Homo sapiens: one gene and its partners. The protein of the gene in region 3 interacts with the protein of the main gene of each other region in a pairwise test. Each region holds a gene or a part of one and is shown on either strand. Other genes may lie near its edges.

The links.
Region 1: the proteins of SLC10A6 (region 3) and TMEM50B interact in binary tests that used the Homo sapiens proteins (3 or more experiments, as listed by UniProt).
Region 2: the proteins of SLC10A6 (region 3) and BMP10 interact in binary tests that used the Homo sapiens proteins (3 or more experiments, as listed by UniProt).

Annotation. Positions count from the first base shown.
Region 1 is NC_000021.9:33,455,829-33,459,482, forward strand, and holds part of TMEM50B (transmembrane protein 50B), read right to left. Parts: intron 270-3,654; coding exon of another isoform or gene 187-269; exon of another isoform or gene 176-186; intron 1-175.
Region 2 is NC_000002.12:68,869,254-68,873,007, reverse strand, and holds the start of BMP10 (bone morphogenetic protein 10 preproprotein), read left to right. Parts: upstream 1-1,610; 5' UTR 1,611-1,649; coding exon 1,650-1,983; intron 1,984-3,754. UniProt on the Homo sapiens protein: Required for maintaining the proliferative activity of embryonic cardiomyocytes by preventing premature activation of the negative cell cycle regulator CDKN1C/p57KIP and maintaining the required expression levels of cardiogenic factors such as MEF2C and NKX2-5.
Region 3 is NC_000004.12:86,835,852-86,839,505, reverse strand, and holds part of SLC10A6 (sodium-dependent organic anion transporter), read left to right. Parts: intron 1-3,654. UniProt on the Homo sapiens protein: Transports sulfoconjugated steroid hormones from the extracellular compartment into the cytosol in a sodium-dependent manner without hydrolysis.

The DNA of each region.
Region 1 (3,654 bases), on a different chromosome or scaffold from region 3:
CGGCAGTAATAAAGTATCAGTGCCATTCATAATGATACATTTTGTATATTACAACATACTGCTATTATTCATTAACTGTAAGACATCTATAATGAAACTGAAAGAAGAAAATGCCAATTTAATTCCCCCAAAGCAAAGGACTGCTCTTACTCTGGATAAAAGTCAATGAACTTACAAAGTTTTCTTTTAGTCAAAGTAATTGCTGGTTCTAGCTACATCAAAACTGCTGAGGAAGCAGTAACTTGCTCCTTTGCCTCCTATGGCCAACACTGAAATGCAAAATCGTAAAAACATACAAAATAAATTCTTGACTTTTAAACAGTCTGTTAATTTATTTTCTTTCATGAATTCAAGAGGTTTTTTGTGTTTGTTTTTAAAGAAATGGGGCCTCACTATATTGCCCAGACTGGAGTGCAGCAGCTACTGACAGGCACAATCATAGCAAACTACAGCCCAAACTCCTGGGCTCAAGTGATCCTCCTGCCTCAGCGTCCCAAGTGGATGGGACTACAGGCACACACCACAATGCCTGGCTCTCAATCCAGGAGTTTTATCATGCAAATATGTCAGATATAAATAACACAGTTAGAATTTATCATTCTCTTTCACTGAATCTATCCTGGAGGAAATGGTTACTATCTTTATAGGAAAAGAAAAGAAACAAAATGGAAACTACTTAAATTTTTGTGGATTATTAACTTTTGTAAAACTACAAATGTTGATTTAAAAAATACTGGAGAAGATGAAGAAACTGGTTCAATTCTGAGCTCTTGATATCATAGCAAACAATACAGCAGCATGGTTAAGAGCTCCAAGTTTGAGCCAGACCCAGGTTTGAATCCTATCTATACCAATGACTAACTGTATGACCTTGGGCAAATTATTTAACCTCAGCATATCTTCATTTCCTCACCTGTAAAACGGGCATTGTAATAGCACCTACTCCAGAGTGTAAGAATTAGATGAGTGACTCTATATAGTGCTTAGAACAGTATCTAGCCTATAAAGTAATATATAAAAGTTAGCTATTACTATGAATATTAATAGTTCAAGCAAATCTGTACAGTAAAAGATTTGAAACATGGCCTAGAAATGCTCTCTGAAATAAAGTCATATTCACTTTACAAATAGAAAAGTATATTTAGGCTGGGTGTGGTGACTCACGCTTGTAATCCCAGCACTTTGGGGGGCCGAGGCGGGTAGATCACTTGAGGTCAGGAGTTTGAGACCAGCCTGGCCAACATGGGGAAACCCTGTCTCTACTAAAAATACAAAATTAGCCAAGTGTGGTGGTGGATGGCTGTAATCCCAGCTACTTGGGAGATTGAGACAGGAGAATCACTTGAACCCAGGAGGCAGAGGTTGCCGTGGGCCAAGACTATACCACTGCACTCTAGCCTGGACGACAGGGCGAAACTCCATCTTAAAAAAAAAAGAAAAGTATATTTAAATGAGTAATGCTGTTGAAATAGAAAGATGAAATTCACAATCAAGAAATTTATCAATATTTACTAGTTCTTTAAATATTAAGATACAATTGGCTGGGAGCGGTGGTTCATGCCTGTAATCCCAACACTTTGGGAGGCCAAGGTGGGTAGATCGTCTGAGATCAGGACTTCAAGACCAGCTTGGCCAACATGGTGAAACCCTGTCTCTACTAAAAATACAAAAAATTAGCTGGGAGTCGTGGCAGGCGGCTATAATCCCAGCTATTCGGGAAGCTGAGGCAGGAGAATCGCTTGAACCCGGGAGGCAGAGGTTGCAGTGAGCCGAGACTGTGCCATTGCACTCCAGCCTGGGCGACAAGAGTGAAACTCCAACTCAAAAAAAAAAAAAAAAATACACTCAACAATAGTAAAGCCTTTACAAACAATATTTCCCTACATACCTTACAGAAATGGCAATTTATCCCTATTTTCACTATAGAAACTGTAAAGCTCATGGATCACTTCAACTGCTAAAGTAAATAAGCAGGAAGCCATTAACCTGAGGCTATCTCCCTACTCTGAGTTCCTGTGTGACCCCAACCCACCCCCCGGAACCTAACTTACGTAAACGAACTGAAACCTAGGGTTATATTTTTTAATAAATAGCTGAATTTTAGTCAATCACAAACGGCTAAGCTTTAGCCAATCCCAAGCAGCCAACTGATGAGACCATGCACAAATAAGACAAACATATAGCTACAGACAATCTAAAAATTTCTTGTCTTTGCCTTGTGTTCAGCCTACAGCTGCTCATGCTGCTGGGTGAAGCTCTCCGAACCTCTTCTTGGTTTGCTCAAATTGCTAATTTATCTAAAGTTTTTCTTTAACATAACTATGGAGACCTTTTAAGAAAATCAGTGACAGCAGCCCACCCTTCTTACAGTCAGGGATAAAATGAGTTTAAAACACACTTTCCGGCTGGGCACAGTGGCTCACGCCTGTAATACCAGCACTTTGGGAGGCTGAGGTGGGTGGATCACCTGAGGTCAGGAATTCGAGACCAGCCTGACCAATATGGTGAAACCCCATCTCTACTAAAAATACAAAAATTATCTGGGCGTGGTGGCATGCACCTGCAGTCCCAGCTACTTAGGAGGCTGAGAAAGGAGAATTGCTTGAACCTGGGAGGCAGAGGTTGCAGTGAGCCGAGATCACGCCACTGCACTCCAGCCTGGGCGACAGAGCAAGGTTCTGTCTCAAAAAAACACTTTCCTATAAGATTCCATGTGTATGAAATAGATACAGACAGAAAGTACATTAGTGGCTGCCTAGGGCTAGGGGAAGGAGTAATGGGGAGTGACTGCTAATGGGTATGGCAGTGATAAAAATATTCTCAAATTGGATTGTGATGATGGTAGCATAATTCTGTGAAAATACTAAAAACACTGAACTGCATATTTTAAATGGCTGAATTATATGGTATGCAAATTATATCTCAATGAAGCTATCTTTAAAAAAGCATTTTCCTTCAGATATGCTTCATACCAGAATTATGTGCTCTAGTAGTATTTTTAATTAACTAAAAAACACATTTTAGATACAGTTGGTGACCAATGTTATTTAAGCCAACCACTGTCCTCTTGTAATCTGACTTATTTTGTATCAAGTGAAAGACAAAAGAAAAACAAAAGTATTCCAAAGATCTTATACTGATCAAACTATGAGACTTAAATGATACTATCAAAAGTATTCAAAAACCAGCTGTGAGTCAGGACAAGGAGATGTGACAGTTAAGCAAAGAAGGCTGACAAAGAGATTCCAGAGGTAGAGGAGTCAGAGGATGAATAAATTGCGTTCTCTGAAACTGACTCCTGTCTTAGGAGCAAAGGAAGAGGGCCAGTGAAACAGTCTTCCGACGCTTCCAGAGACATTTCTGAAACTGGGTTCTATTTTTCATCACTACTGTGAATGAAAAGCTATGGCACCTGGCAGAGCCACAGATTTCAGCATGGTGTAATAAGAGCTCATCCCACTCCATCAGCTGTTTCTGTATGAAGAGTATACATATGTGTTCAGTCTTGCCCTTAAAAAACTCCCCCTGTACCCATGACTTAAAAATTACAGGATTGGCTGGGCATGGTGGCTCACACCTGTAATCCCAGCACTTTGGGAGACCAAGATGGGTGGATCACTTGAGGTCAGGAGTTTGAGACCAGCCTGGCCAACA
Region 2 (3,754 bases), on a different chromosome or scaffold from region 3:
TCAGGACCAAGGCATTTGGCGTTTTTTGTGTGCCTAGTAATGTTGTTTGCCGAGTGTATTAGTCAGGGTTCTCTAGAGGGACAGAACTAATAGGGGATGGAGATATATTTCTGAGTTTATTAAGTATTAACTCACACGATCACAAGGTCCCACAATAGGCTGTCTGCAAGCTAAGGATCGAGGAGAGCCAGTCCAAGTTCCCCGACTGAAGAACTTGGAGTCCCATATTCAAGGACAGGAAGCATCCAGCATGGGAGAAAGATAGGCTGAAAGTCTAGGCCAGTCTCGTCTTTTCACGTTTTTCTGCCTGCTTTATATTCTAACCGTGCTGGCGGCTGATTAGATGGTGCCTAGCTAGATTAAGGGTGGGTCTACCTTTCCCAGCCCACTGATTCAAATGTTAATCTCCTTTGGCAACACCCTCACAGACACACCCGGGATCAATACTTTGCATCCTGCAATCCAATCAAGTTGACAGTAAGTATTAACCATCACACCAAGCTTTTGCTGGAGCCTCTTGATGACAATTTTGATTGAGTCAGAAGGATGAATTTCGCAGAGATGTTGGTTATATTAACAACTCATTGCACAGATGGAGGACCTGAGGTCCACATCCAGCTACAAATTTCTGCCTGCCTCCTGCCTCCAGGCTGATCTGGGGACGTGTTGGCCTCTCAGCATTATTGCCCATGCCCTAGTCTGGTAGAAGAGTGGTTTAAAAGTGTGACTGTTTTATTCTTCATAAGAATCAGGCTGCCTTGGTTGAAATTGTGGCCCCATCACTTTGCAACTTTGTGGCCTCTGGCAAGCTATGGCACTTCACTGACCCATATATGTGATGGAGATAATGATACGGTTATTACAGGAGCACACTTGATGATAGGTGTAAAGCACTCAGTACAATGCCTGTTTGTAGGAAGCATCTAATAAATTCTAGTTGCCAGTATAACTAAGCACTTGCCCTATTTTTCAAATGCTATTTTAGCCAGATCAAATAGGTAGGAAAAAGCCTGTCAATCATGAAGTTTATACTTTCCTGTTTCTAAAAAGGTACACTTCTAAAAATTTATATAATTCATTTATAGCTATTAACTTAAACTTGGAAAGTTTGGATATTTGGTCTGTCTTCACAAGTGTTTATCTGAGCCCTACCTCTCAAATTAACATGTATCACCATTGATGTGCATTATGTTGATTCTTATACCTATTATATGCATGTGTGAAACTAAGCCCCATAAAAACAGAATTTAGGCATTCCTGCTGAAAGGAAGTGAATTGAAGGGAAGAGAAGCAGAGCCTTTGCAAAGAGAAAATTGTCCTATCTCTCAACCAGTGTCAGAATGTGGAAATGTTTACAAAATGCTCATTAAAAGAAATAGGGATTGCAAGATAGAAACAAATTCTGGTGCACAAGTTTACACTAGGGAGATAAGAAAGGCTAGGCCCCTATAGGGGATTTTGTTATCCAATTACTGCAACCTGACTTTTAGGGGGAGAGGAAGAGTGGTAGGGGGAGGGAGAGAGAGAGGAAGAGTTTCCAAACTTGTCTCCAGTGACAGGAGACATTTACGTTCCACAAGATAAAACTGCCACTTAGAGCCCAGGGAAGCTAAACCTTCCTGGCTTGGCCTAGGAGCTCGAGCGGAGTCATGGGCTCTCTGGTCCTGACACTGTGCGCTCTTTTCTGCCTGGCAGCTTACTTGGTTTCTGGCAGCCCCATCATGAACCTAGAGCAGTCTCCTCTGGAAGAAGATATGTCCCTCTTTGGTGATGTTTTCTCAGAGCAAGACGGTGTCGACTTTAACACACTGCTCCAGAGCATGAAGGATGAGTTTCTTAAGACACTAAACCTCTCTGACATCCCCACGCAGGATTCAGCCAAGGTGGACCCACCAGAGTACATGTTGGAACTCTACAACAAATTTGCAACAGATCGGACCTCCATGCCCTCTGCCAACATCATTAGGAGTTTCAAGAATGAAGGTAAGTTTTTGCTGATGAAATTTTGCTAGGATTTTTTTCAAGACACAATAAGTAAATTTACAATGCATGGGAATGATATAGGTAAGGGTAAATACATCTATATAAGGATGTTAAATACATATGGATACACAAAAACAAGGCACATTTTGTTCTATACCAATTATATAGTCATTTCAGGAACCTCGAAAAATACTTACAAACATCTTTTAATCCAAAGCCACAAAACATCTATCAATTTGACATCATAATTGGGTCCTTTTAAAAAATGTTAATTTGAACACCAAGTAATACAAAGAATTAATGTTGGTCTACTGCCGTACCTTTGTCATTTTCCAAATAGGCCTTGATTGCCATATGGGCTTTTAATTAACTAAAAAATTTCTCAACTTCTACTTAGAATAAAAAGGGTAAAAACAGTCAAAAAACATCAAATTGTGATTTGTGTTTTGTTCAAACTTTTGATAAGTTTTTATTTTGTGACCTTATTTAAGAAATGTTCAAACAGGATGGAAATATATTTTAAAGATTCTTCCTAAGGCTGTGTTGTTTGATGTGTCATGTACATCCTTAAAGCACTGTTTACAGTTTCCAGGAAGTGTAGATGGCCCATTAATCATCCAGCTCATCATTTCCGTCTTTATAAAGAGCAACGTACAAGCTTTGAATTATTGGTGGGAAAAGTGTGTTTTCTTCTCTTAGGTCTTTAAATTTGGTAACTAAATCTAATGAGCTAGCAAGTTAATGTTTTTGTTTGTTTGTTTGTTTGTTTGTTTTTTGGTTAATATGGTCCTAGTAGGAAAAAAAACCCCTGATATCTAGATATCTATAGTAGAAGCTGAAGGTCCAAAGGAACTAATTTAATTTTTGCCAGTTATGCTTTTATAGTCACTAACCAGGTATAAAAGAAGCTTCCCGTTAATATTGGCCAGATGTTCTTGAAAGAAGAAAGGTAATAGTGAAGAAATAGCTCAGGATTTGGGATTTTGAGAGCTAGTTGGCTTAGTGGTTGTGAATAATTAGCTGATGCCTCAGAGCCTCAATTTCCTCATCTATAAAGTGGGAGTAATAATACCTACATAACATAGTTGAGTGACTCAAAGGAGGTTACAGATAAGAAAGCACTCCATTTACTATGAAGTGCTGATCAAACTTTAGTGACTACTAATGAGTTACTTAATATTCTAGGTACTGGAATAAATGTTGAGTAGGTATTCCTTAGTCCCTAAGATATTATCTCCCTTTAAAATTGAGTTGGCTGCCAAAATTTATAATTCATAATATCTTTCTCATGGAAATGGCAAGTTGAGATTACAGATTGCTTTTGGAGGTGAGTCTGAATTGAAAATGAACAACTTCCTCCTGTAAGAACCCTCCCTAATACTTCTCAGCACTGAGCCCTAAGTGTCTGGCTCAGGGTGTGGGTGAGAAAATGTTGTTTGCATCCCCTGGAAAACTAGAAACGTTTTCCGTTCTCACTTCTCTCATAGAGTATCTGGATGATCCAGGTCAGGATGTGGAGTTTACTGTGCTTATTATTACTGGAGATTATTGAGGGCAGGAACACATCTCTTAGTAAACAACCCAGCCGCCAGCACCTCTGCCAGTCTGCAGGAAATGTGCAGCCTGAGGACAGAAATCGCACAGGACATGCCCTGTTGGCTACTATTGCCTCTCTTCTGACTCTTTGGATCTGCTTAGTGCAGCTCCCTAGGAGAGAAAGACCAAAAAAACTCCAAACCTACCCCATCTTGGGAAAAAAAAGTGCCACCTC
Region 3 (3,654 bases):
AAAGCAAACAAGTTGCAGAGTAAGGTATATTATAAGGTTCCTTTTTTTATTTTTAGAGACAGGGCCTCCTTCTGTCCCCAAAGCTGGAGTGTTGTGGTGTGAGCATAGCTCACTGCAGCCTCAAACTCCTGAGCTCAAGCCATCCTCCTGCCTCAGCCTCCCGAGTAGCTGGGACTACAGGTGTGTACCACCACATTCAGCTAATTTTTGTACTTTTTTTTTTTTTTTTTTTGTAGAGACCAGGGTCTCTCTATGTTGCTCAGGCTGTTGTTAAACTCCTGGTCTTAAGCAATCCTCCCAATTCAGCCTCCCAAATTGCTGGAATTACAGGCATGAGGCACTGCACCTGGTCTGATTCCTTTAAAAAGAAAAAATAATGAAAGAAAAAAATCCTATTGATTTAACAAACAATCATGAAATAAATGGACTGCTTAAAAGAAAAATAAAAGAGTAGAAGGATGTACACAAATACTTGCAAGTTATCTAAGTTTGGATTTCTGAAAGGAGCACCAATCAGCTAAATATTTGCTTCTTAAAATTTTACTTGCTTTTGTCTGGGAAGAGCATAATTTTTTTTTTTTTTTTTTTTTTTTGAGACACTGTCACCCAGGCTGGAGTGCAATGGCATGATCTCGGCTCACTGCAACCTCCATCTCCCAGGCTCAAGCAATTCTCCTGCCTCAGCCTCCCGAGTAGCTGGGATTACAGGCGTGTGCCACCATGCCCGGCTAATTTTTGTATTTTTTTTAGAGATGGGGTTTCACCATGTTGGCCAAGCTGGTCTCGAACTCCTGACCTCAGGTAATCTGCACGCCTTGGCCTCCCAAAGTGCTGGGATTACAGGCATGAGCCACCATGCCCTGCTGGGAGAGCATAATTTTATAGAAAGTCTCTTTTTCTGGATTGCTATGGGGCTGTTTACCATTTGAACTAAGTATAAAGGGGTCATTTCAGTAAGATTTTTACCAATGTTCACCTGGAGATACGTGACATATGACGGAGACAGAGAGAATATTTCCATAGCACCAGTGTGTTGACATTGGTTCATTCTTTGATTCATACATTTATTCAGTAAGTATTTAACGAGCTCTTCCAATATGCTGCAGCGTGAGACTATGCCAGGTCTCCTAGAGATGGAGAGGAAAATAGGACCTGGCTGTCATGCCACTCACTCTGGCACAGATGGACAGGTACATAAGTACTTGTGTAGGGTACAGCATGTGTATAATTCATGAGCCAATGTCAATAAAACCATGTCCAGAGGGCCATGGATTCAGAATCCTAGAAGCAGGATCGCTAATTTTCCTAGATATTGCCAGACACCCTCTGTGGTGTACCATTTTTACCAGCAATGAGTGAGAGCACAGAGGGAATCTTTTTAGTATCATTGAAGTAAAACAGATGCTGCTTTGTCAAGAGTATAAACATTCTTCTGGCAGAAAATGTTAAAGTAGTCATAGACGTATTATTTTATAGACAGGGTAATTGGATGGAAGCAATGGTGATATATATTAGGAGGAAGAGTGACAGATGACTTGTAGACCCAATAAAGTGCTGAAGGACCTTCTGTCTATGCAGAAGACCTTGACGTATGAAGGGCCTCCTCCCTCTCCTTTGTAGAGCAGGAGGGCAGTCTGCTTCTCAGTCTGTCAGTCATTTGTGCCTTGAGCACAGAATGAGCACAGTGTCTATAAACAGTTTGTACATGCTTAAACAGATTGTGTAATTTTTTCCAGCAAATTGAAAGATAAAATATTTGACTGGTCTGATGGGTATCTTCTTTCCATTTATTTTCTTTCCCCTAATTTTACTAATGCATTCTTTCACTGGTTCTATCACTCAGGTAGGTACAAAATACAGCCTTAACTTGCGATTTGGGAGTGAGACTGAGATGGAAAGAATAGATTTGGGATGGAAGGCACCAAAAAGTGGGGTAAGGTTGAATATTTCTTCAGTTCTCATCCTCCCTGATTTTTATTGGCTTTTAGCCTTCATTTGGGAGCTTTCTTTTCTTAGCTTTCATGAAATATAACCTCCCAGCTCTCCACTGACTTCTTTTTTAAATTTTATTTTTAATTGACAAGTTAAATTATGTATATTTATGGTGTACAACATGATGTTTTGCTTACTTGCTTCTCAAATCCCAGCCTGCCTGCCTGCCTTCCTTCCTTCCTTCCTTCCTTCCTTCCTTCCTTCCTTCCTTCCTTCCTTCCTTTCTTTTTCTTTCTTTCTTTCTTTCTTTCTTTCTTTCTTTCTTTCTTTCTTTCTTTCTTTCTTTCTCTCTCTCTCTCTCTCTCTCTCTCTACATGCACCATGGGCTCTTCTTCCTCTCCCTGGTTTAGAGCAAAGGAGGCTTTACAATATATAAAATATTAACTATCAGTTAATGTAACTAAGTGCTTTTCCCTAAATAAATTTAGACCAAAAATATATATGGAAAATACAAAAACACAGTATATTATGGCCGGGCGTGGTGGCTCATGCACTTTAGGAGGCCGAGGCGGGTGGATCACCTGAGGTTAGGAGTTCGAGACAGCCTGGCCAACATGGTGAAATCCCATCTCTACTAAAAATACAAAAATTACCTGGGTGTGGTGGTGGGCATCTGTAATCCCAGCTACTCAGGAGGCTGAGGCAGGAGAATCACTTGAACCCAGGAGGTGGAGGTTGCAGTGAGCCGAGATTGCGCCACTGCACTCCAGCCTGGGCGACAGAGTGGGACTCCATTTCAAAAAACAAAACAAAACAAAACCCCAAAAAATCTGCAACAAATTACAAATGTGTGAAGCAGTAACTTAGTTCATATAATGTAATAACAATATAGTAATTGTCTTAGTCCATTTTGTGCTGCTGTACAGGATACCTGAGACTGGTTAATGTATAGAGAAGAGAAATTATTCCCTTACATTCTGGAGGCTGGGAAGTCTAAGATGAAGGTGCTGGCATCTATTGTCTGGTGAGGTCCTTCTTGCTCCTCACGTGGTGGAAGAGAGAAGGGCAAAAAGGAACAAACTTCCTTGGTGGAGTCCTCTTAAAATAGCATTAATTCATTCATGAAGGTGGATTCATTGTGACCTAAACACCTCCCAGAAAGCTCCACCTCTCAATACTGTTGTCTTAGGGATTTGATTTCCAACCTATGAATTTTGGAGGACACATTCAGACCATAGCAGTAATCACGATACACAGTTTTTGAGGACTTCAAACCAAGTACTCTTCCCCCTCTGTCACAGACATTATGTACTTAAAAGTTCTTAAGAACCATTGCGCTTAAAATGTGTTAGCCTTTTGACTTAGAAACAATTAACCTCAATAATAACAGAGATAAACAAACCAGTTTTCCAGTAGAAATCATTCTGGATTTGTTGAACAAAGACCACAACTTCCTTCTGATGGTCTCAGTTGTTTTCCTGGTAAAGCTATGTAGCATGGCTGTTGGTTTTGGTTTGGTTCGTCCGGCTCACAAACCCACATTTCACTTTCCAAGGTGGCCAGAGACAACCCCAGTAATGACACAGATAAACAGACTGATTGTCTTTAGAAATCTTTCCAGGTTTGTTCACCAAAGACTGGATGTCCCACTATCACCTTACTTAACACAACCCCTCTAACTGATGCTAAGTGACTCAGCTTTTTTGTATATCACACCATCAT